Homo sapiens: one gene and its partners. The protein of the gene in region 1 interacts with the protein of each later gene in a pairwise test. Each region holds a gene or a part of one and is shown in the gene's direction. Other genes may lie near its edges.

Region 1 (7,973 bases):
GCCAACACTTAAATTTTTGTCATTTATGTTTTTTAATATTGTTTTTTGTTATTTATTTTTGGTAATTTATAAATACAATTTTTGTTTTGCTTAGGTTATATTAAAATTTCTAGTTTTTAAAGGTTTGACTACTTTTTAGCTTACATTTTTAGAGATTATAACTGTAGCCCAGAGCTCCTCCGGAATTAATCTGTTCCTCTTACTACAGGCTCTCTGAAATTATCAAACAGATAAAGGACATAATTCTTCAGGGTCCATTGAGAAAAACAGTTGTTCTTTTAAGTATCCTAGACTTCCTTTTATTTATCCTAGACTTCCTTTTATTTTTAAGAACAGATTTAACATTTTTATCTTTCCAGCCCCTTCTTAGTATTTTTCACTTATTTCTTTTTTTATTTTATTTTTTTGAGACAGTCTCTCACTCTGTTGCCAAGGCTGGAATGCAGTAGCGTGATCTTGGCTCACTGTAGCCTCCACTTCCCAGGTTCAAGCGATTCTCCTGCCTCAGCCTCCCAAGTAGCTGGGATTACAGGCATGCATCCATGCATCACATCTGGCTTTTTTTTTTTTTTTTGTATTTTTAGTAGAGGTGGGGTTTTGCCATGTTGGCCAGCCTGGTCTCAAACTTCTGGCCTCAAGTGATCTGCCCGTCTTGGCCTCCCAAAGTTCTGGGGTTACAGGGATGAACCACCATACCTGGCCAAAGTTTTTATTTTATTTTTTATTTTATTGATTTATTTTTTTGAGACGGAGTCTCACTCTGTCGCTCAGGCTGGAGTGCAGTGGCATGATTTGGCTCACTGCAACCTCCACCTCCTGGGTTCAAGCAATTCTCCTGCCTCAGCCTCCCAAGTAACTGGGATTACAGGTGTGCACCATCATGCCCAGCTAATTTTTGTATTTTTAGTAGAGACAGAGTTTCACCATGTTGGCCAAGCTGGTATCGAACTTCTAACCTCAAGTGATCCACCTGCCTTGGCCTCCCAGAGTGCTGGGATTACAGGCGTGAGACACCACACGTGGCCAAAAAATTTTATTTTTTAAGGTGTCCAGTATGATGTTTTGATACACATAGTGAAATGGTTACTACAGTCAAGCCAATTAAATGTATCTATCATCTCACATAGTTACCCTTTTTTTGTAATAGTAATTAATTAATATTAATTTTACTTAGGTGTTTGGTTGTTTTTGTCCTTCTTTTCCTCCATCTTATTTCAAAAAACCTTGTTTCAGTTCAAAGAATCTTAATTCAGAGGTGTAAGTAGAGCTTTTTTCTGTGGGTCAGTATCCCTTCCAGGAGAAGATTGTGGAAAACCTGGTGAAAGGAGTAGTACTCCTTTATCAAGTAGGCTCTTGCTAGGGAAGAGTTTTATAAGTACCCCAGGGACCTTGGACCCTCACTGTTATCAGGTACTTGAAGAATTGGTCCAGATGATCTCAAAAGTTCTCTTTAACTTAGAGCTTTTGTGATTCAATGAACTGAGTTAAAAGGCTACAGTAATTTATATGGGGACCTGGGAGTAGATGATTGAGCACGTTGTTGATTCCAGGCCATAGTCAACATTCAGCCCTGCTAGTCTACAGGTGCTGGGAGAACCTGGTGCTGAGTTATGTTAATGGCAAGGGCCCTTGAATAGGAGCCAGAAGACCTATTCTGGTTCAAATTCTGCTTCTGTCACTTGATAGTACCTTCTTGTTTACACTTCAGTATGCATTATTTTCATCATGCTATATGTCCTTAATATTTGGGAAGATACTTGAAACAATTAGTAAACAGTGTAAGGTAGTGCATATATTATACATAATCAAGTACCAAATTATGTGGCACAAACTGGAGAAGCTGCAGTTAGGATATAAGATTAATTAGTATGGGCTTGGCATAGTTCTAAGTGGAAGAGAGAGGAATTAAACTGGGCTTTGAAGGAATGTAGGAGTCGAGGGGATGAGGGGGTGGAAGGATTCTCAGTACAAGGACACATCTGTAAGAAGGAACCTGGCATGTGGGGGGCATGGTAAGATCATCTTGTCTTGAACAAAGCAAGGCATGTATGGGGGTTAGGGATGGCCGCAATATTCAGGGAGTCTGAAAATTAATATAACACAAGTTGCTAGAGACTCTTGCTTTTCTTATCTTCTTTTTGGGTCATTTTAACCTTAAAGTAAACATGACTGGACATGTTTTGTTGTTATTCAGTTGGAGGAGGGAGGATTCTTCCATCTTTCTAATGTTTTTAATGACTTATATTCATTTTCTCTTTCATAGATGACCACTGAGCAGTTTACAGGAGATCATACTCAGCACTTTTTGGATGGAGGTGAGATGAAGGTAGAACAGCTGTTTCAAGAATTTGGCAACAGAAAATCCAATACTATTCAGTCAGATGGCATCAGTGACTCTGAAAAATGCTCTCCTACTGTTTCTCAGGGTAAAAGTTCAGATTGCTTGAATACAGTAAAATCCAACAGTTCATCCAAGGCACCCAAAGTGGTGCCTCTGACTCCAGAACAAGCCCTGAAGCAATATAAACACCACCTCACTGCCTATGAGAAACTGGAAATAATTAATTATCCAGAAATTTACTTTGTAGGTCCAAATGCCAAGAAAAGACATGGAGTTATTGGTGGTCCCAATAATGGAGGGTATGATGATGCAGATGGGGCCTATATTCATGTACCTCGAGACCATCTAGCTTATCGATATGAGGTGCTGAAAATTATTGGCAAGGGGAGTTTTGGGCAGGTGGCCAGGGTCTATGATCACAAACTTCGACAGTACGTGGCCCTAAAAATGGTGCGCAATGAGAAGCGCTTTCATCGTCAAGCAGCTGAGGAGATCCGGATTTTGGAGCATCTTAAGAAACAGGATAAAACTGGTAGTATGAACGTTATCCACATGCTGGAAAGTTTCACATTCCGGAACCATGTTTGCATGGCCTTTGAATTGCTGAGCATAGACCTTTATGAGCTGATTAAAAAAAATAAGTTTCAGGGTTTTAGCGTCCAGTTGGTACGCAAGTTTGCCCAGTCCATCTTGCAATCTTTGGATGCCCTCCACAAAAATAAGATTATTCACTGCGATCTGAAGCCAGAAAACATTCTCCTGAAACACCACGGGCGCAGTTCAACCAAGGTCATTGACTTTGGGTCCAGCTGTTTCGAGTACCAGAAGCTCTACACATATATCCAGTCTCGGTTCTACAGAGCTCCAGAAATCATCTTAGGAAGCCGCTACAGCACACCAATTGACATATGGAGTTTTGGCTGCATCCTTGCAGAACTTTTAACAGGACAGCCTCTCTTCCCTGGAGAGGATGAAGGAGACCAGTTGGCCTGCATGATGGAGCTTCTAGGGATGCCACCACCAAAACTTCTGGAGCAATCCAAACGTGCCAAGTACTTTATTAATTCCAAGGGCATACCCCGCTACTGCTCTGTGACTACCCAGGCAGATGGGAGGGTTGTGCTTGTGGGGGGTCGCTCACGTAGGGGTAAAAAGCGGGGTCCCCCAGGCAGCAAAGACTGGGGGACAGCACTGAAAGGGTGTGATGACTACTTGTTTATAGAGTTCTTGAAAAGGTGTCTTCACTGGGACCCCTCTGCCCGCTTGACCCCAGCTCAAGCATTAAGACACCCTTGGATTAGCAAGTCTGTCCCCAGACCTCTCACCACCATAGACAAGGTGTCAGGGAAACGGGTAGTTAATCCTGCAAGTGCTTTCCAGGGATTGGGTTCTAAGCTGCCTCCAGTTGTTGGAATAGCCAATAAGCTTAAAGCTAACTTAATGTCAGAAACCAATGGTAGTATACCCCTATGCAGTGTATTGCCAAAACTGATTAGCTAGTGGACAGAGATATGCCCAGAGATGCATATGTGTATATTTTTATGATCTTACAAACCTGCAAATGGAAAAAATGCAAGCCCATTGGTGGATGTTTTTGTTAGAGTAGACTTTTTTTAAACAAGACAAAACATTTTTATATGATTATAAAAGAATTCTTCAAGGGCTAATTACCTAACCAGCTTGTATTGGCCATCTGGAATATGCATTAAATGACTTTTTATAGGTCAATGCATCTTTGTTATTATCGTCAGATGTATTTCAACTGATGTATTATACTATTGGTTTAAATCTCTTTCTCTCAAGATAGAAGGTGTAGCAAAAGTATCCCAACTACTCCTCGCTTCTAGTGTCCCTCGGCATCTGTTCTGGAGGGGTAATTTGGGATGTGGTGTTAGTTGTGGCTGAGAGCCAGTGCTAGGTCCCTTGCCCCACTAGGCCATTCTCTAGGCTCATTCTAGGTGAAAGAGCTCACAGCAGACTGTGGGGTGGGGGAGCACCAGGAAGCTGTTGGTGACCTGGACAACTGGTGTCCCTGGTTTTCAGTGACTCGCTCCTCTTCCCTTCAGTTCTCTGATGTTTGGTGTTATTATTTTATGTTGTTATTTTGCCTCTGATTTGTTTCCTAGTCACTCAAAGCATTTTACAGAAGCCTTACCACTTTACTAAATAACCCTGTAAGGTACTGATTTAAAAACTGAGTCATATGCATCCCTCCTCCTTTCCTCTCCCATGCCCAAGGAAGATAAAACAGCTTCTCTGCCACAATTGACCCAGAGTGGTAAAGATAGAGAATCAGCATGAAAACTGCAGTTCCCCAGCTTTGTGGTACTCCACGGACCAGCCTCCTTGCTGCATTTTCATAGAATCTCTTCCTTATAAAAGTAATCACTCTCGGATAAACCTTACTACAGTTTAAAAATGCTTCCCTCTTCTCTTTACAGCTACCTGCCACTTCAATGTGCCACATTTTTCCCCCCACTTTCACGTTAAGCTTAATGCTATTCCCTAGATCTGAGTGAACTTCAGTTAGAAGAAGAAAACTAAAAATCCAGAAACTGGTGATAATCAAGTTTTCCCTTTTTATGTTTCTTAATTTTATTCTCTTCAACAGCTTTTCTTTTTCTCTGCTAAGATTTAAACAGTGAGGGCTGATAATAAAACTAATTGTTAAGCCAGTGTCCTACTTACAAGGGTGGAGACGGGACAGAAGCTAACTCACTGCTACTGGGTTTTGTTTGTTGTTTCCTGTCCCTTGCTCTATTTCTGTCCTCTTCCAGAACAAAAGTATGCTCAAGTTCTATCCTAAATGTGTGCTCTTGGCTGGGTATTAGTGGCTCATGCCTGTAATCCCAGCACTTTGGGAGGCTGAGGTGGGTGGATTCCTTGAGCCCAGGAGTTCAAGACCAGCCTGGGCAACATGGTGAAACCCTGCCTCTACAAAAAATACAAAAATTAGCCAGGCCTAGTGGCACATGCCTGTAATCCCAGCTACTTGGGAGGCTGAGGTGGGAGGATCACTTGAGCTGAGATCATGCCACTGCACTCCAGCCTAGGCAACAGAGTGAGACTCTGTCTAAAAAACAAACCAAAAAAAGTGTGTTCTTTAAAGTAGAATATTTGCTTTTTACAATATAGTTCTCAGAATGATCCAGTTCCATTTATTATTCTAGAATGTGGTGCAAACTCAATGACATTGGAAGAGACTCTTTTTGTTGGGCAGTGTAGGAACAAGAAAAGAAAATAAAAATGCCATGAGTATATTATTTAAGGAACTTTTGTTTTATCCAAAAGTAGTCATGATTGCTGTAGCATAGGCTGTGAAAAATGAGAGAGTGCAAATCTCTCTCATTTAAATGTCCACAGTGGCTTTAGTCTCCCAAGTACAAGGGCCAGATGGCAGAGAACAGCTTAAACTGAGCCTTCAGCCTCATTAATAGGAGGAAGTCTTGGTACTTTTGGTGACTAAGAAACTGGATTATTTAAAACCTTAATTATCTCCTTTACTCCTGGTTTACAGAAGGCAATAAATATACAACTCCTTTAGATCCCTCTAACTCCTGCTGAATTTTCTTTCTTTTTTTCTAAGTCTGCATCCTATCTCTTGATTCCATTGCCTGAAGAAGCTGTGTGAAATTAGTCTGGTTATTGGTTTTCTTGTCTGATAGTGGCATCTTGATCTCTTCAGATGTCACACTAAATGCTGCTCATAACCCATCCTCCTCTTCTTTATTCATCACTGCCTTCTTCAAGGGAGGTCTTGAAACTGCCTCATCTACCTCATGATCTGCTAGTCGAGATAGTGACTCTTTGGAAGTTGGTAGTCCAATGTCTGCTTCCCCGCATTAACCACATTGCGTAGGTTTGGGAATTTTGCAGGTGCTAAATCATCATGGCCAGGAAGATGAAACACCTTGAGAAATGGGAACATCTCTTCACTGTGTTCTTGGATCAGCCTTCTTTCAACTACCAAGAAATGGATGATTTCTCTGCCAACTCCAGGAAGTAGTACAGCATGATTGAATCCTTCTTCAGTGAATCTTTTCATTGTAACTTAGGGTGTAAAAGCTCATATCTACTCAAAAAACTCAAATCTACTCTTTCAGTAGATATGAGCTTACATTGACTTATGAATGGTTTTCCTGTAGGCCCAACAGTGTCATGACCCTCCAGTTGAAACAAAGCATGAGTTATTTTTATATCGAGTCCTTGAACTGCTAGCCAGGTAGATGTTTCCTTGAAGTCCAGAGCAGGATCCAAGTCAGATGAAGGAGGTGGCACACCTGGCTTAACTGCAGATCAGGGAGCATTGAACCTCTACAATTTGCTGCATTGGATTTCTGCATGGGTTTCTCACTGAATAGTAAATTAGAGAAAATGCTACTTTTACTATTTTGCATTTTATATCAACATTAGCAGCCTGTTCCCACTCAGGTGCTGTCCAAGGCACATGTTTCCTTGGGATGTTTGGACAGAATGATCTGGCTTGATGTATTTCTTGGGCTCTGGTACCACATCATAGAGTTGGTTAAATGTAGCCAGCAGCAGTGTCAAGACAGCTGACACTGTCTTCCAAGAGTGAATGCATTGGCCTTTGGAACTGCTGCTAAAGCCATGTGTGGGGTGGCGAGCACATCTTTAGGTGGCAGCAAGGCTATATCTGATTGACACAGATCTGAAGTCTCTAACACCATATTGCTGTTGTCCTGAATTTTCTAACTTGGAGAAATTTAAGGATCTCCTGCATTATCTAGGCAGAGCATATGTTGAGGTTGTTTTGCCAGTTGTTATCAGTGTTGAAGAACTGCTCCTGTAAGCAAACTGTTAAAAGCATTACTACCCCATATGCATCTGATGTACACTGTGTTTTGGTGTTTGTGTTTTTAGTGAGAGTTCTAGCCAGTACTGTGCCTGAACTTGGGAGAGAAAGGGGCCTGTGGCTGAGGTTGGTGCGTGCTCTATTTCTGTGTATCGAATGGACTACAAGGTTACTGAAACTGGGCTAAGGGAAAGTGTATAGACAACTCATTACACTGTAGACAGATTTTAGAAAGCTACAGGAAGGCAAATGGATGTTTCTGCCTCAATTTGGCAACCGAGAGAGTGATGCAGAGCAGAGTCATTGAAGTTGGCATACCTGTCTTCTGCAGGCCAATTCAAGTTTGAGGAGAGTGGGCTGCTTAAAAACATGGTGCTCGTCCACATGGATTTGAGGAAGTTTATGGTTGGGTTTCAAGCTTAGGGACAAGTTGTGGTTTTTAGAGGCAGTAACTCTATGCCACCTTATTGGCCACTGTTAAAAGTTTCACTTGGATCCCTGCCCAGCCATAGCAATGAGTGACTGAATTGGATCAGAGTTAGTACAGAAATTCAGACTGTCTCTTCCTCAGTTACTGGATTGTTCTTTAGCCATTTTTCTTCTAGTCATTTCAGTCAAACTGGTTAGGTTAGGTGACTTACTGAGTTCTAAATTGACAAATTTTAATTTCCAAGTTGTTTCTGACACGGTGAGAGTTGGGTTAGAATTTTTATTTCATTCCCCAAGTCATTTTTTCTTTTTCTTTATTTTTTCTTTTTGAGACAGAGTCTCGCTCTGTCGTCCAGGCTGGAGTGAAGTGGCGCAGTGTTGTCTGCA
Region 2 (7,656 bases), on another chromosome or scaffold:
TCCACTCATAACCCCCACACCCTTAGATTTTGTTTCAGTAAGTCCAGAGTGGAGCCCAAGAGCAGAGTTGGTTTTGTTTTTTGTTTTTGACACAGAGTCTCGCTTTGTCACCCAGGCTGGAGTGCAGTGGCGTGATCTCAGCTCACTGCAACCTCATTCTTCCCAGTAGCTGGGATTACAGGTGCCCGCCCCCACGCCTGGCTAATTTTTGTATTTTTAGCAGAGACAGGGTTTTTCCACGTTGGCCAGGCTGATCTCAAACTACTGACCTCAGGTGATCCGCCCACCTCAGCCTCCCAAAGTGCTAGGATTACAGGCGTGAGCCACCATGCCCAGCCCAAGAGCAGAGTTGGTTTTTTTCCTGCATACACCTAGATGCTTTTGATGATCAAACAAATGTATGTGACATGGGTTGGCTATTTTATACTCCTTTTTCAGTTTAACTTTATTTAATAGGTTCTGGTAGATTAGCATAGCCAGTGAACCAAGAAAGCGTTGTTTTCCTTCCTTCTGTTCCTGGGCCTGAATATTTGCCCTAAAGTACAAAGAATGCTCCTGTGGTAGGATTGTCATTTTTCCTCGGGGCTTGAACAGAGCTGTACATTCCAGATGTCCCACAGTATCAGCTGCCCCCTTCATCTAGAAGTTTGGCTGTCACTTGTATATAGTGATGGGATTAAACAAAGTAACTCGTTGAAGCATCCCAGATGAATAAGTGGGGAGAATAAGTTATTAAGTATCTAGTGGGAACTGGTTTGTTAATCTAACTTACAAGAATAGTGGTTCTCAGTTCCATGATTACCTAATGACTAGCAATCCTTAGCCCTGCAGAATAGCTGCAGACCAAAAAAAAACGGGGAAAGCCATGACTTGAAAAGAATAGTACTGGTTCTGAGGAAATACACAGCTATAGAAAGACAGCACTCCCTGGAACTCCTCAGGGGTGGCAATGGTAGAGGTTGGTGGGTGGAACTTTGAGCCTCTTCAGCTGGAGCAGTCTGGCATTATCTATTACTTGGCATCATATGCAAAAAGAATTCTGATGCTTAAAGAGAAAAAGGTGGAAAACCCATTCAGAGTGCTATTGATGAGTAGCTTGTTGCCCAGAGAGATGCACAAAGTCGCACAGCTATTAGTGACAGGAACCAGGACTAGAAATAAGGTCTCCTTTTCCTAACAAGAATACTAAACCTTCCTGAAGTCCCAGTAAATAACAGTGGTCTGGGAAGAGTCCTTTAAAAATCGAGTTATGGCCTAGCATATTGTTACGGTGGATTCTGAGTTAAAGTGAAAGTACGAGTCATGCTTGCTGTGTTGTTTATGCAGACAAGGAAGTGTGTACAGTGGTCTGAACATTGTCCACCTTTTATGTGTCTGTCACCACTGTTGGCTACTTCATCCCCTCACCAGGCTGGATAACTGATGCTTTACTACTGACTACCCATCTCATTTTCATGATTTCATGCTTTAGACATACAAAGAGAATCTGGAATCAGATCCTGTAGTAAATCAGTAGCTGTAGTAAATCAGTAGCCACATGAAACTGGCATTTTAAATTGAAGTGCATTAACTGGATAGTCCTAATCAATAAGCACGTGGTTTGTTGTCCAAAGAGTATTTTAACTACGTGACAAAATAAATATTATATTTAGGTTTCATTATGCCTTTCTTGTAAAGACTGATTTTCCATTTTATAAGGTAAAATGCTTGTGAAACTTGATGCAGAATATTTGACTACTTGAATTCAGCAGAACATACTACATATTTTTCTTTGTAGACATTTTTGGCAGTTTCATTCTTTAAGAACAAGTCGAGAAGTAGATAATCTTCTCTACCCAAATTTTTTACCTTTTGAGAAAAAATATGGATTTAAATTATGAGCAATATTAAACTCTCATTACATCATCAGAAATCTGGGAGCTAAAGTTTATTTCAGAAGTCTTATTAGATGGAGTTGCATTTCTTAAATTAGGAGTTATGTTTTATTTAAATTTCCTGCCTACCCTTGGAGTTGTAAACATCACCTTACTTCATAAAACCTTCCCTGAAGTGCCTCGTAGTTTCCCATCTCTCTGTGCCCATGTGGAGATACTGCTATTTCTTGTCTTTTATCCAAATGGGCCTGAAAATTCAGAGTGTAGCCACAGTAACTTCTGTGCTGTGAATGCATATGGCTTGGATCCCAAGTAGAGCACTCAGTCTGCCTTGCTCTTTGATATCAATTATAATCTATTAACATAACTAAAATCCCATATATGGACTCCTTTGGCTGTTTTCAATCTTAAAGCCGTTTATGGTAGAACTTTTCATGTAATTCTCTTATCTGCAGTTTGAATGTATAAACAACTTTTCACCTTGGTTCCATTTTATTTTTATTATTATTTTTTTTCTTTTTTAGAGATGGGGTCTTGCTGTGTTGCCCAGGAGGCTAAAGTGATCCTCCCACTTCAGCCTCCCAAAGTACTGAGATTACAGGCATGAGCCACCATGCCTGGGCCCTTTTTCTGCCTCTTTATGGTCACTTCATTTAATAGGTACGGTCAAGGTAGTAAGATTTGTGGCTACTAATAACTGCCGCATTATTTCTTCCTTACTTGGAAAGAAGGAGAAGCTTGATACGTAAATATAAGATGACATTTATTTCTATATTTTTATAGAAGATTTTTATTATTATATAGGTCCTGTCCCTGCTATCAGTGGGGCACTGAAGAAAGCAGGACTGAGTCTTAAGGACATGGATTTGGTAGAGGTAAGTGTTTTTTTTTTTTTTTTTTTTTTTAACAACATGAATAAACCATGTACTTTTATAGCATAAATGACTTTAATTTGGTCTCATTGCTCTTTGAATTTCATTGTAGTTAGCCTTTCCAAATGATGTACATCTAAATAAATAGTACCTTCATTAGATGCCTTGTGTTGATACTTTTCCCCACCTGGTTAACATGCTTTATTTATATTTGAATATTCAAACTGCCTGATTTCTCTTACTCAAGTATAAATTCCTGGGAATTTCTTACTACTTTATAAAACTGTTACATTTTAGACTATTAACATGCCTGTTGAATATTAAAGTGAAAAAATATATGTAAAATAATTGACATAATAGAAAAGCAATATTTAGTGCCAAATCTACAAGTTTCTTGCCCTTCTCGCCAGATAGAGCCCCCTCCCTTAAATGTATCTTTGGCTTTTATACGATAGTTGTAGCTTGATTTGGGATGCACCTATCATAATTTTTGACACTGGAACTTAAATTTATTGAGTGATTTCTTTTTAAATGTTAGTATTAGAACTAAAGTGTCTTAAGCATAATTAAAAGAAGAGGTGGAGAAACATTTAAAGATGGTTATATACATTCCACACTTTTGGAATATTTATTTGAAAATTTTAGGTGATTAAGCATGTGATGCCTGGCATTGGGAAATAACTAATAGAACAAAGGAAATCTATTTAACTTGATAGCGAAGGGGTAGGCACAGGTGTGATTTCCTCTATGATAATCTCTCACACAGGAAACCATGATTTCAGACAAATGGTTTATCTTTAAATCTCTTCCACTTTTAGCAGATCACAGTTCAGAGCCTCAAAGAGGCTGTTTAATTTATTATATTTGTGTCAGCAAATAGGTACCACTAAATTTCTCACTTTAGACCTCACATTTAAAACTATTAAACTATATCAACTTTGGGAAGTTGTTCATAATCATTTGGAAATGTATACATTCTCAAGGACATAACTCAGACCATAGTTTTCCTAGGTTCAAAAGCCTAGTTTCACTACCTATTCTAGGTCTCTTAGTACCTCCTTGAAGATGGCTCTGTATATAGAGTAGAAAGATAATGGTGGATCTAAGCACATATGAGGCACCATCTTGAGAGACCACAAAGTATAGTAGGAAAGAGCACAAGACTGAATTTTATCCCAACTCTGCAAAAGTTACCTTTCTTAGAATGAGTTTCCTTATCTATAAAATTCCTGAATTAAGATCATATGATAATACAGTACTGTAAACTTGAAGTAAGGTAATTGCCAGTTTGTGTAAGTATAACATAATATACTTTTCAGTTCTGCCACATTTCAACATAGTAACTGTTCCCTTTATGTACGTGGCTTTGAAGGTTTATTCTTTGTTGTGTGTCAGCTTCTTGGAAGGATAGCTCCTAGTACTGCATAATAATAATAATACTTGCAACCACTTATTGAGTACTTGCCATGTTTCAGGTAACACACTGGACACTTAATACTCATGATTTTATCTAACTGTGACAGTGACTCTTAGCATGATACCACAGTCACATTTTCACACGCGGAAACGTGAATTTAAAGAGTTTAAAGAATATGCATAAGGTCACACCCTAACAAATGGTATAGCCAATATTTGAACCATCCATCCAGTTCTAAAACCTGTGGGCTTTCTACAGTATCCCACTGTGTCTGGTATGTGTCAATTTATGGGATTACTGAGAATTGCCTCTAAGGGATGCATTTGACTAAAAGTATTATTTAGTAAATATACACATTTTAAACCTGATAGCTTTATGCAGAATGATTGTAGATAAAATAACTTTGCGAGGTAATTTAAATAGGAAGAAACAGCAGACTTAGCTGTTGATAGGACTGGACCATTCTCATTTAAAAATTAGTTTGTGAGTAAGGATTTTTGTTAGTGCTCTAATTTTTGTTTTAAGGTGAATGAAGCTTTTGCTCCCCAGTACTTGGCTGTTGAGAGGAGTTTGGATCTTGACATAAGTAAAACCAATGTGAATGGAGGAGCCATTGCTTTGGGTCACCCACTGGGAGGATCTGGATCAAGAATTACTGCACACCTGGTTCACGAATTAAGGTATTTGCTAGAAATAGCTGCATTTCAGATTTGCTGTTTTTTATAGAAATGCATGGATTTAGGCTTCCCCAGAACACTCCAACATTTTTCATTCTTCTTCATGTCTCCTGCACTGGCTGTTACCAGGAACAAGTTACTTGGGCAGTGCTTTTCATCTGGTCTCATAGATGAGTCAGTCACCTTGTTAGTGGCTTTGCACTTAAGAACCAAGCTCTTCCTCTGTGTGTCCAGTCTCTGTGCACTGTGTGCCCCACTCAGCTTGTGTTCACTGCATGAGCAGATAATGAGGCCCTGCTTCTCATGGCACTTGTATTTTAGTGCCAGTTACAGGAGTAAAATAAATCTATTTTAGAAAAAAAAAGTACTGAGTGAGTACTGATCTAGATGCCATAATTTATGAAATCTAAGCAAACTGACATTTGGGTCTAAGTTTTTCTTTTCACTGCTTGCAGGGTTCCAGGAGGAACCTTTTGGGTGTTTGGTGCTTTTCAGTTTTGATAGATAGTACCAGAAGGAGGAGCTCTTCTATTTTTGGAATATTTTGCTCTGTAGAAAAATTGCAAACAAAACCAAGTAAGTCAGGCTGAAAAATTACTCTGACTCCCTGTTAGGCCAGGGGAAATGTGACTCTTATTTCACTTAATGATTCCCTGAGTTGAAATAGGTGATTGCCACATACAAAAGTAATTCCTGGATAATTTTCTCGAAGTCATCATATTAGGAGTGAGGAGTACTTTAAAAGAGTCTAATTTTTATGAAAGGGACATGGATAGTTTCTAAATTATCTGCCCTTTCATAGGGACAAACTTTATTAATTACATTTCTTCTAAGGTGCCATGAGGCTCTCACACTATATAAATCAAATATATAAATCAAAGGAGCTTAATGTTCATCCCCTTCCCCAGCTTCCCATTTATCCAGTTACCTCCTCTTCTCACTCCTTTCCCGTAACACACACAAGCTTCTGTATGTGTTTCATATACCCTAAATCTACTCTATAACCCTAAATCCACTCATCTCCTTTTTAGTTTGCCTCCCTCTTCTGGTGTTTGTTTTTGTTCTTTGTTTTTTGTTTTTTTTGATTAAAAACTTTCAGCTTTCCAAAGTCTGTTGCCTGTTGTAATTATACCAAAATTGAGGACTGGGGAAAAGATTGAGCAGATGAGCTGAATAAGGATGAGTAATGCAGATGTGATGTTATTAGTTCTATTTCATTAATCTGATTTTTTATTAGAGTAGATTTCAGTCACTGCTTTCTTTTTCAGGCGTCGAGGTGGAAAATATGCCGTTGGATCAGCTTGCATTGGAGGTGGCCAAGGTATTGCTGTCATCATTCAGAGCACAGCCTGAAGAGACCAGTGAGCTCACTGTGACCCATCCTTACTCTACTTGGCCAGGCCACAGTAAAACAAGTGACCTTCAGAGCAGCTGCCACAACTGGCCATGCCCTGCCATTGAAACAGTGATTAAGTTTGATCAAGCCATGGTGACACAAAAATGCATTGATCATGAATAGGAGCCCATGCTAGAAGTACATTCTCTCAGATTTGAACCAGTGAAATATGATGTATTTCTGAGCTAAAACTCAACTATAGAAGACATTAAAAGAAATCGTATTCTTGCCAAGTAACCACCACTTCTGCCTTAGATAATATGATTATAAGGAAATCAAATAAATGTTGCCTTAACTTCAGTTAATATTTTCCTGTCATTTATATTTTTAAAAATTTTAAATTGTGATAAGATACACATTACATAAACTTTACCATCTTAACCCTTTTTTAGCGTACAATTCACTGGTATTAAGTACATTCACATTTTTATACAAACATCCCCACTTTTTATCAACAGAACTTTTTCAGTCACCACACATGGAAACAATAACTCCTGATTCTCCCATCCCCCATCCCCTGACAACCACCAGTGTATTTTGTTTCTATAAATTTGATGACTCGAGGTACCTCATAAGTGAAATTATAAATATCTGTCCTTTCGTGACTGGCTTATTTTACTTTACTTTATATAATGTTCTCAAGATTCATCCACCTTATGGTGTAGCATGTGTCAGAATTTCCTTCTTTTTAAAGGCTGAATAATATTCTGCTGTGTGTATAAACCTTACTTCCTTCTTCCCAGCTTAAAGGCCATCTTTCATCCTTTATTTTCTCCCTTTAAAATGCCCCCACAACACTTCCATTGCTTTATTTGTCTGTTCTAAGACTGGATATCTAGTAGGGCAAGGCCCTATTCTTGTTAACTTCATCAAAGAGCCACTGGAAATTTTAATTAAGATTAAATTGAATTTATGGGTTATACATTTATTGGGGGGAAATTTTTTTTTTTTTTTTTGAGACAGAGTCTCGCTCTGTCCTCCAGGCTGGAGTGCAGTGGCGCGATCTCAGCTTACTGCAAGCTCCGCCTCCTGGGTTCATGCCATTCTCCTGCCTCAGCCTCCCCAGTAGCTGGGACTACAGGCGCCTGCCACTACGCCCGGCTAATTTTTTGTATTTTTAGTAGAGATGGGGTTTCACCGTGTTAGCCAGGATGGTCTCGATCTCCTGACCTCGTGATCCACCCGCCTCGGCCTCCCAAAGAAGTGCTGGGATTACAGGCGTGAGCCACTGCACCCGGCCTTTTTTTTTTTTTTTTGAGATAGCATCTTGCTCTGTCACCCAGGCAGAATTGCAGTGGCACAGTCATGGCTCACTGAATAATAGATGTTAAATAATACTAGATGTTAAATAATAGTATCATAAGTACCTACACTGTTTCCTCAACCCTTTGCTTATATGGTTTCCTTCATTTGATTAAAA
Region 3 (7,656 bases), about 140 Mb from region 1:
TCAGGGAGAGCTGACAATTGCATCCTAACAAAGATAAAGTGACACTTTGGTCATCTCGAAGACATTCTTGAGGTTCAGAAGATTCCAGTAGGGAGTTTCTTAAATTCTTCATATTTTGAAAATGTTCAGAACCCCTGAATATCCAGCAGTTTTGAAAATGTTCAGAAGCCTTGAACATCCAACAAGAACAACAATACTAAGTTCTTATATTTATATAAGTTTTATTTTTGTTTTATTCCTTAAGCAGTACCTGTGAAAAGTGATTCATTAAAAAATTTCATTTTCCACTTAGTACCATTAAGTCTTGATGACAATGGACTTGGAAAAAGAAAAGGAAAGAAAAGTGGGGATTACATTTTCTACTCTCTATAACACCAAAACACACCTCTCAAGATGACGAATGGGGAAGCACTGTGGTGGCATAGCAGAATTTATACAACCTCTGTTGAAAATCCCCTGTGTGCCTCATCCAAGCTGTGTGGGCAAGTTTCTTAACCCTTCACACGTCGAGTTTCCTCATCTATCAAATAGGACTAATAACATTTACCTCTCAGGAAAATTGTTAGTATTGGGTAAGGATTGGTAGTATTAGATAGTATCGGATATCACTTAACAGCCGTATTATTGGAGCTGTTCAATAATTGTCCTTTTAAAATAGCAATAGCAGGTTTACAGCAATATAGTCACATCAGAATATAATATTTCTAAATGTGTTTAATCCTTCCATCTTTTGATGTTGCTTGTTCTCACAGTGGAAATTGTGGATTCGGTAGAAGCTTATGCTACAATGCTGAGAAGCATCTTTGATTTCAGTGCACTGAAAGAACTACTTTCTGGGCCAAACCGACTGAAGATCCGTATTGATGCTATGCATGGAGGTATACAATCATTTCTTTTCAATTCCCATCTCTTGAGGATAGGAAGTTGCCCTCTTCTGTGTGTATCATGATGCTTCAACAAGCCTTTTCTCAAGTCTCTCTGATGGTTTTTAAATAGAGTTATTTTGCAACCAGAGCAATATTCACACAGATAAAAATCTAATTGTATGTAGCAAAAATAGTAGAGACACTCCTCGTGGTAAGCTCGTGTGAAGGTCAGTGTTTCCACCTTAAGCATCAGGTTCTGAGTAACATGCAACTGCTGTTGTGGACTCTCCCTCCCCCTCAGAAGATACCTTACATTCTTGCTGCATGCCCCCATGTATTTCTGAGAGGACGGTCATTTGGGAGATGTGATAAACATACTCCTGAGCCCCACACCCCCACTCACCTGCCCCCAAATGCTCGTTTTCTTAGAAGAGGGCAAGAGCAAGCTGAGGATTAAATTCAGGAGCAACATGATGTGTACAGCCCTCTCTTCTTCCTCCGTGGGTTGTGTGGTCAGGTCCATAGAGAGGGCAGCTATCACTGTGAACCAGAACCACGAGGGTTTTCTCAGACATGTAGGTATATGAGAATCCCTGAAACCTATACACATACATCTGCCTGGTTGGAGAAGCCTTTCTGCCTGCAACTGAACCCTTTTAGTGATGCAATTCGGGGATTCCTGTGACACTGCAAACCACAGAAAGTCTTCTGCTGGTGAACTAAAACCTTCCATCCTTGAAACTTCTCCCCTTGGGTCCTAGCTGGCCTCTGGACTCCCATAGAATGGATCTACTTCCTTACTCAGACAAAAGCGATTCTGTCATTTTAAACCATTCAACAGATGTGTATTGCATACCTGCAAAATGCATGCCTGGGGAATAGGCAGGAACTGGGCAGATTACTTTCTTCAAAGAATGTGCAATGTTTGGGGAGACGAAGTGGGTAAAAAACTAACCCCGGGGTCGGGCGCGGTGGCTCACACCTGTAATCCCAACACTTTGAGAGGCCAAGGCAGGTGGATCATGGGGTCAGGAGTTCAAGACCAGCCTGACCAACATGGTGAAACCCCATCTCTATAAAAGTCTCTATAAAAATACAAAAAATTAGTCGGGTGTGGTGGCACATGCCTGTAATCGCAGCTACTCAGGAGGCTGAGGCAGGAGACTAGCTTGAATCCGGAAGGCGGAAGTTGTAGTGAGCGGAGATCACACCACTGCCCCCCAGCCTGGGCGACAAAGCAAGACTCCGTCTCAAAAAAACAAAAAATCCCTAAAAAACTAACTCCTGCCAGGCCAACAAAATGAGAGTTGGAATTTCAAGTATTCTCTTTGGGGTTGGAAGAAGGCATAATTTGACTAGGTATAAAGAAAGGTTTCCTGGAAGAAGTGGCATCCAACTCAGTTCTTATGAAAGAAAGATCTAGAGTGATGAAAAATCAAGCAATGGTCATTCTCATGGAGTCGGTGGCTGTGGCAAAGGCATGAAGGCTTAAAAATGGATGTCACATTAGGGAAACGAGAGGCCTGGGCTGGCTGGATAATGGGGCATGTGAGGAGGGCATTGGGTAAGAGGAGCTTCTCCGGAAGAAGACTACTTTTCTCCAGGTCTTTTGGCTGTTCCTCTAATGCTTTCGTTTCTATATCCCTCACAGCCCTGGCTGCCTTGACCTCATTCTGTGGTGTGTCAGTAACCTGCTTAATAGGTGATGCCTCATAGGACACATTTATTCTACAGTGTTATGACCTCTGGGGCATGTACTGTATTGGGATTAGTACCATCCTTGATGAAAATACTCTCTCAGCATTTCAGAGATGCGTGTTCTTGGTAGTTATATAAAATGTCACTGTAAACATATGTAACTGGCTTCTCCTGTTGTTTGTTTTTGGTGGTGGGTTTTTTATTTTCTTTTTTTTTTGAGACGGAGTCTTGCCCTGTTGCCCAGGCTGGAGTGCAGTGGTGCAATCTCAGCTCACTGTAACCTCCGCCTCCGAAGTTCAAGCGATTCTCCTGCCTCAGCCTCCTGAGTAGCTGGGATTACAGGCGCCCGCCACCAGGCCTGGCAAATCTTTGTGTATGCATGTGTGTGTCTGTGTCTCTGTGTGTGTGTGTGTGTGTGTGTGTGTGTGTGTGTGTGTGTGTGTGTGTGTGTATATATATATATATTTTTTTTTTTTTTTTTTTTTTTTTTTTTAGTAGAGACAGGGTCTCACCATGTTGGCTGGGCTGGTCTCAAACTCCTGACCTCATGTGATCTGTCTGCCTCAGCCTCCCAAAGTACTGAAATTACAGGTGTGAGCCACCGTACCTGGCCTGTTTGTGTTTTTTTAATCAGTTTGTCAGCTAGCTTGTCATAATATAAAGATAACAGCTCTGAATCCCAATTCCCACTTTTCCTAGCCATGTAAGTTTGGGCAAATGTCTTTACCTCAGAACACCAACATTCCAATGTATCTGTAAACTGCAGGTGATAATCATAATATAAACATTTATAACATATCTGCCAGGTACTATTCTCAGTACTTCATAGCTATTAACTCATTTAATCCTTACATCAATCCTGTTAAGTAGTTAGCATTACTACCCTCATTTTGCAGATGGAAGAGACTGAGGCACAGAGAGTTTAAATAACTTTCCCAAAATTATTATACAGCCAATGACTGGCAGAGCTGGGATTTGAACCCAGACACTCTGATTCCAGAGTCCAGGCTCTTAAGCTCTAAGCTGTACAACCTTCTGAGCTTTTCTGAAGGACTGAATGGGAAAGCACAGGTATACCGCAGGGCCTTTATAATGGTTGGTTTCCTTTCCTTTCCCCACTCTGCCCTTCATGAACTGGCCCCACCTTTTCCAACATAATCTCTCATTGTTCCTTTTTAGAGAACATTCTTCTCCAGTCAGGCGTATCTCTCCACTAGTCCCTGAACACATTTCACACATTCCTGTTGTTTCTCATGCCATTCTTCTCCCCAGAATGCATCCACCTCACCCCTGAATCCTCACATACTTTAAGGAGTTTTATTTTCTGATTCTGCATACATTTATTCCATGCTGTATATAGTTGTGGGACCGTATGTAAAGAAGATCCTCTGTGAAGAACTCGGTGCCCCTGCGAACTCGGCAGTTAACTGCGTTCCTCTGGAGGACTTTGGAGGCCACCACCCTGACCCCAACCTCACCTATGCAGCTGACCTGGTGGAGACCATGAAGTCAGGAGAGCATGATTTTGGGGCTGCCTTTGATGGAGATGGGGTGGGTATAAGTGCATTTAAGTGAACTCTGGTGCAGGCCAGGCCTGATCCTGCAGATGGGGAAAAAAGTGGGCTGCTTCTGCCAGACCCAGGGAATAACTGTTAAGGATCCCTCATTCTGACCCGAGGTCAGAACTAAATTATTAGAAGCCCCTCTTGAACAGGAATAGGAGTCATTGAAATGAAACCCACACATTTAATTTCAGACATCCATACTTGCTAACAATGGCACGATGATTAGGTTCTGATTATGATAGAATGACTGGTATTTCCTGAGCTGGGTGAGTTCTAGATGCCTGTCTTAAGGTGGGTTTCTGCTCTCAACCAGCAGCTGGCTACTTATTTAATCTCTGGACAAGATTTTGGTCTTATAATACACCCATTCATTCATTCACATGAGCTGAATATTGAAGCTGTAATTTCATTGCCTATATGAAGATGATATTGAGAGAATTAACATTTTAATCATTCTCTACCATTAAAATGTTTAGAAATAAGCTGTTTTATTTACAAGGGTGACTATGTACCAGACAAGGAAGAGATGTGTCTTAGGTTTATATCCCTGGTATCTCACTGATGGTAGGCACTGTATACATTTACTTAGTTGAAAATATATTTTTGTTGTTGCTAGTGTTACCATTAGCTAGAATCCACTGTTTCCTGAAAAATGATTTTTCCCTTATCAAAATGTTGGGAAATTAAAGGGGTTCCAGCAGACATTATTCTGTAGTACATCTTTGTGATGAGTGCATTCTGGGAGTGTTTTTTGGCCACCCTCCCAGTTACTGTGGTACACAGACTGTGGTACACAGTTTACCCAGTAGACCTACCAAACTATGTAAACAGCCAATATTTCTTCTCTCATTGCATTTTCCCCTCCCCTGGGAAAAAGATGATTGGTTCCAGAGTCTGAAAAAAGTCTAGGAGGTTAAAGTTAGCTGGCCTCTGGAGGGAGAACAGAGGACTCAGCTCAAAAGGAGGTTGTGCTTGGACTTTAATTGAAAACAGTTTTAACTTTTTGGCATGGAGGTGCCTTCGGCCCAATGGTACTGTATAAACTCATTGAAAATAAAACCCAGTGTTAAAAATGCAGTATGGAAAGGAGATCAATTTCAAATTTTATAGTTTTACATTTTATAAAACCCCCATGAAAGATAGTTTGATTTCTTATAGTTTGATTAAAAGGTCTTTCTTTGATCCTCTCTTCTCCCCAAGGATCGAAACATGATTCTGGGCAAGCATGGGTTCTTTGTGAACCCTTCAGACTCTGTGGCTGTCATTGCTGCCAACATCTTCAGCATTCCGTATTTCCAGCAGACTGGGGTCCGCGGCTTTGCACGGAGCATGCCCACGAGTGGTGCTCTGGACCGGTAGGTGTCTCCATTCCCTTGGCCTTCCTGTCTTAGGTCGTCCCAGTCTTCACCATACCCTTCACTGTGCCTGGAACACGTGTCCTTCCCTTTCAGCATGGGCATCTGATGCATAGAGTGTGCTGAGCGATTCTTGTGTGAGGGGATGGTTGGCTTTTTCTGGATTCAATGCCCCTCTCCGCACTCCCTTGGCACCCTGGGCCTCCTCCTCCTGGCACTTACCACACTGTGTTCTAGTAGCTGTTTTCTTGATGGGCTGCCCTGCTAGACTGTATACTTCTGCAGAGAAAGGACTGTTTTGTTCACCATCTGGACTCTGCCTGACCATAGCGTGCCTGGCACATAGTAGGACAAACACACACACACACATACACGTATAATTTTTTAAAGTTAATGAATAGTTGAGTGTTAATGAATAACAATGGAAGTACTCAAGACATCATTCTGGAGGATCACTTTTCTTTTGCAGTGTGCACAGAGTGTGGGTGAAAGAGCAGTTTGAAGTAATTTTAGAGTTTCAACGACTGGATCGCTCTTGCCCACACAAACACAGTGAATGTTTATATATCACTTCATTGTACAAAGGCTTTGAGGTGGCTTGTTAGATCACACTTAAAAAGTTGAAAAATGAAAGTCATAACAGATGAGGACCAGGGAAAACATTAGTTAGAATATGTCAGGTGTGCAGGAAATGTTTGATGAATAAAAGGTAAAGAATGAATGAATGAATAAAAGGTCAAGGCCAGGGAGGAAAGTAGGCTGTAATATATCTCTAGGCTCTTATAATAATAGCTGATATTTATTGAACATTACTTTGTTGTAGACACTAAATATTTTGCATGTTTTAATTCATTTACTTCTCAGATGAACCCCATGAGGTAAATGCTGTATTTAACACCATTTTTCTGGTGGGAAAACCAAAGGACGAAGAAGTAACTTACCTGAGGTCACCCAGCTGGTAAATGGCTGACTCAGGATTTGAACCCAGAGCCTTTGCTCCCACTCACTGGGCCATGCAGTTGTTTTCTGTAGAGGGGAGATGGTTATAGAATTGGTGCTGACTTTGCTTCAGCTAACAAGAAAATAGCCACTAATATCCATATAGTGGTTTGTAGTTTGTATAGTGTTTTTTTACATTCACCATCTCAATTGATCCTCACAGCAGACCTCATTTTAAGGAAGAGGAAATGGAAAGTCAGGGAAGTTAGCAGTCTTGTCCAAGATCTCACCACCAAATTAGAGCTAGCATTTGAGCCCAGCACGTCTACCATCAGGTCCTGCATTTGAAATTATGAGCTGGTTTGAGGTCACACTATCATATGTTAGGCCTGTCAGGTCCTGGAATACCTTCTATGTCATCCAAGAACAGTGTAATTCCAATTTTTGGAAAAATTGATAATCCACATATAGAATCACAATTGAAGTACCTCATTACCCAGATAAAAGTTTATTGTACTTTCATAGTTTTCAAAATCATAGATTTGATTTTTCCTCAAATATCAGAATGCAAAGCTGACATTGCTTTCCTGGAAATAAGGCAAACATTCTGGGAAGCAAATCTCGCTCAAACAGTGAATGGAACTTATCAGGTAACTTTTCATGTTCAAAGGGAAAGGAATTTTTTTTTAAGTCACTCAGAGGTTTTAAATAGTTTAAAGATACCTAGAGAGAAATAAAAGACGTGTTAGAAGGGAAGGGGAACCACTAATCAGTGTGGGTGAAGCCAGTACTTAGGGGAGACCCCACTGGGCGTTTCCCCTGGGGAGACTTCTGATGAGACAAAAGCAGCACTGACCAGAGAGCTGAATACTGGGCGGTCGGTCATCCTGGCTTTGTGACCTTTGTCTGATCACATAACATTCTGGGCCCTGTTTCCTTCTCTGTAAAATGCTAACTGCCCAGACCCAGTATGTCATGATTCTGTGATTACAGGTGCATCAAAACATCATTCTTCTCTTCTTTATAGATTGATTATAGATGCAGTCTGTATCCAAAATGTGGATTTAAATAGCTTAAACAGCAGCCCTGAACATTTTACTACGGATGCTTCTTCTAAAATATTAAACTCCATGATCTGAATTAATTCTTTCTTCTTCCGCCTTCTCTGAATCCACATATAATAGCCCATTGTGCACAAGGTTTCTCTTATGATTTTCCACCAATCTTAGAATT

What was found. The genes of interacting proteins can lie anywhere in the genome.
Region 2: the proteins of DYRK3 (region 1) and ACAA2 interact in a two-hybrid assay, tested with the Homo sapiens proteins (one study listed by BioGRID).
Region 3: the proteins of DYRK3 (region 1) and PGM1 interact in a two-hybrid assay, tested with the Homo sapiens proteins (one study listed by BioGRID).

What each region holds. Positions count from the first base shown.
Region 1 is NC_000001.11:206,645,125-206,653,097, forward strand, and holds part of DYRK3 (dual specificity tyrosine-phosphorylation-regulated kinase 3), read left to right. Parts: intron 1-2,263; coding exon 2,264-3,841; 3' UTR 3,842-7,973. UniProt on the Homo sapiens protein: Dual-specificity protein kinase that promotes disassembly of several types of membraneless organelles during mitosis, such as stress granules, nuclear speckles and pericentriolar material.
Region 2 is NC_000018.10:49,782,384-49,790,039, reverse strand, and holds part of ACAA2 (3-ketoacyl-CoA thiolase, mitochondrial), read left to right. Parts: intron 1-2,678; coding exon 2,679-2,749; intron 2,750-4,688; coding exon 4,689-4,843; intron 4,844-6,108; coding exon 6,109-6,193; 3' UTR 6,194-7,656. UniProt on the Homo sapiens protein: In the production of energy from fats, this is one of the enzymes that catalyzes the last step of the mitochondrial beta-oxidation pathway, an aerobic process breaking down fatty acids into acetyl-CoA.
Region 3 is NC_000001.11:63,630,905-63,638,560, forward strand, and holds part of PGM1 (phosphoglucomutase-1), read left to right. Parts: intron 1-752; coding exon 753-878; intron 879-3,924; coding exon 3,925-4,115; intron 4,116-5,329; coding exon 5,330-5,484; intron 5,485-7,656. UniProt on the Homo sapiens protein: Catalyzes the reversible isomerization of alpha-D-glucose 1-phosphate to alpha-D-glucose 6-phosphate. The mechanism proceeds via the intermediate compound alpha-D-glucose 1,6-bisphosphate.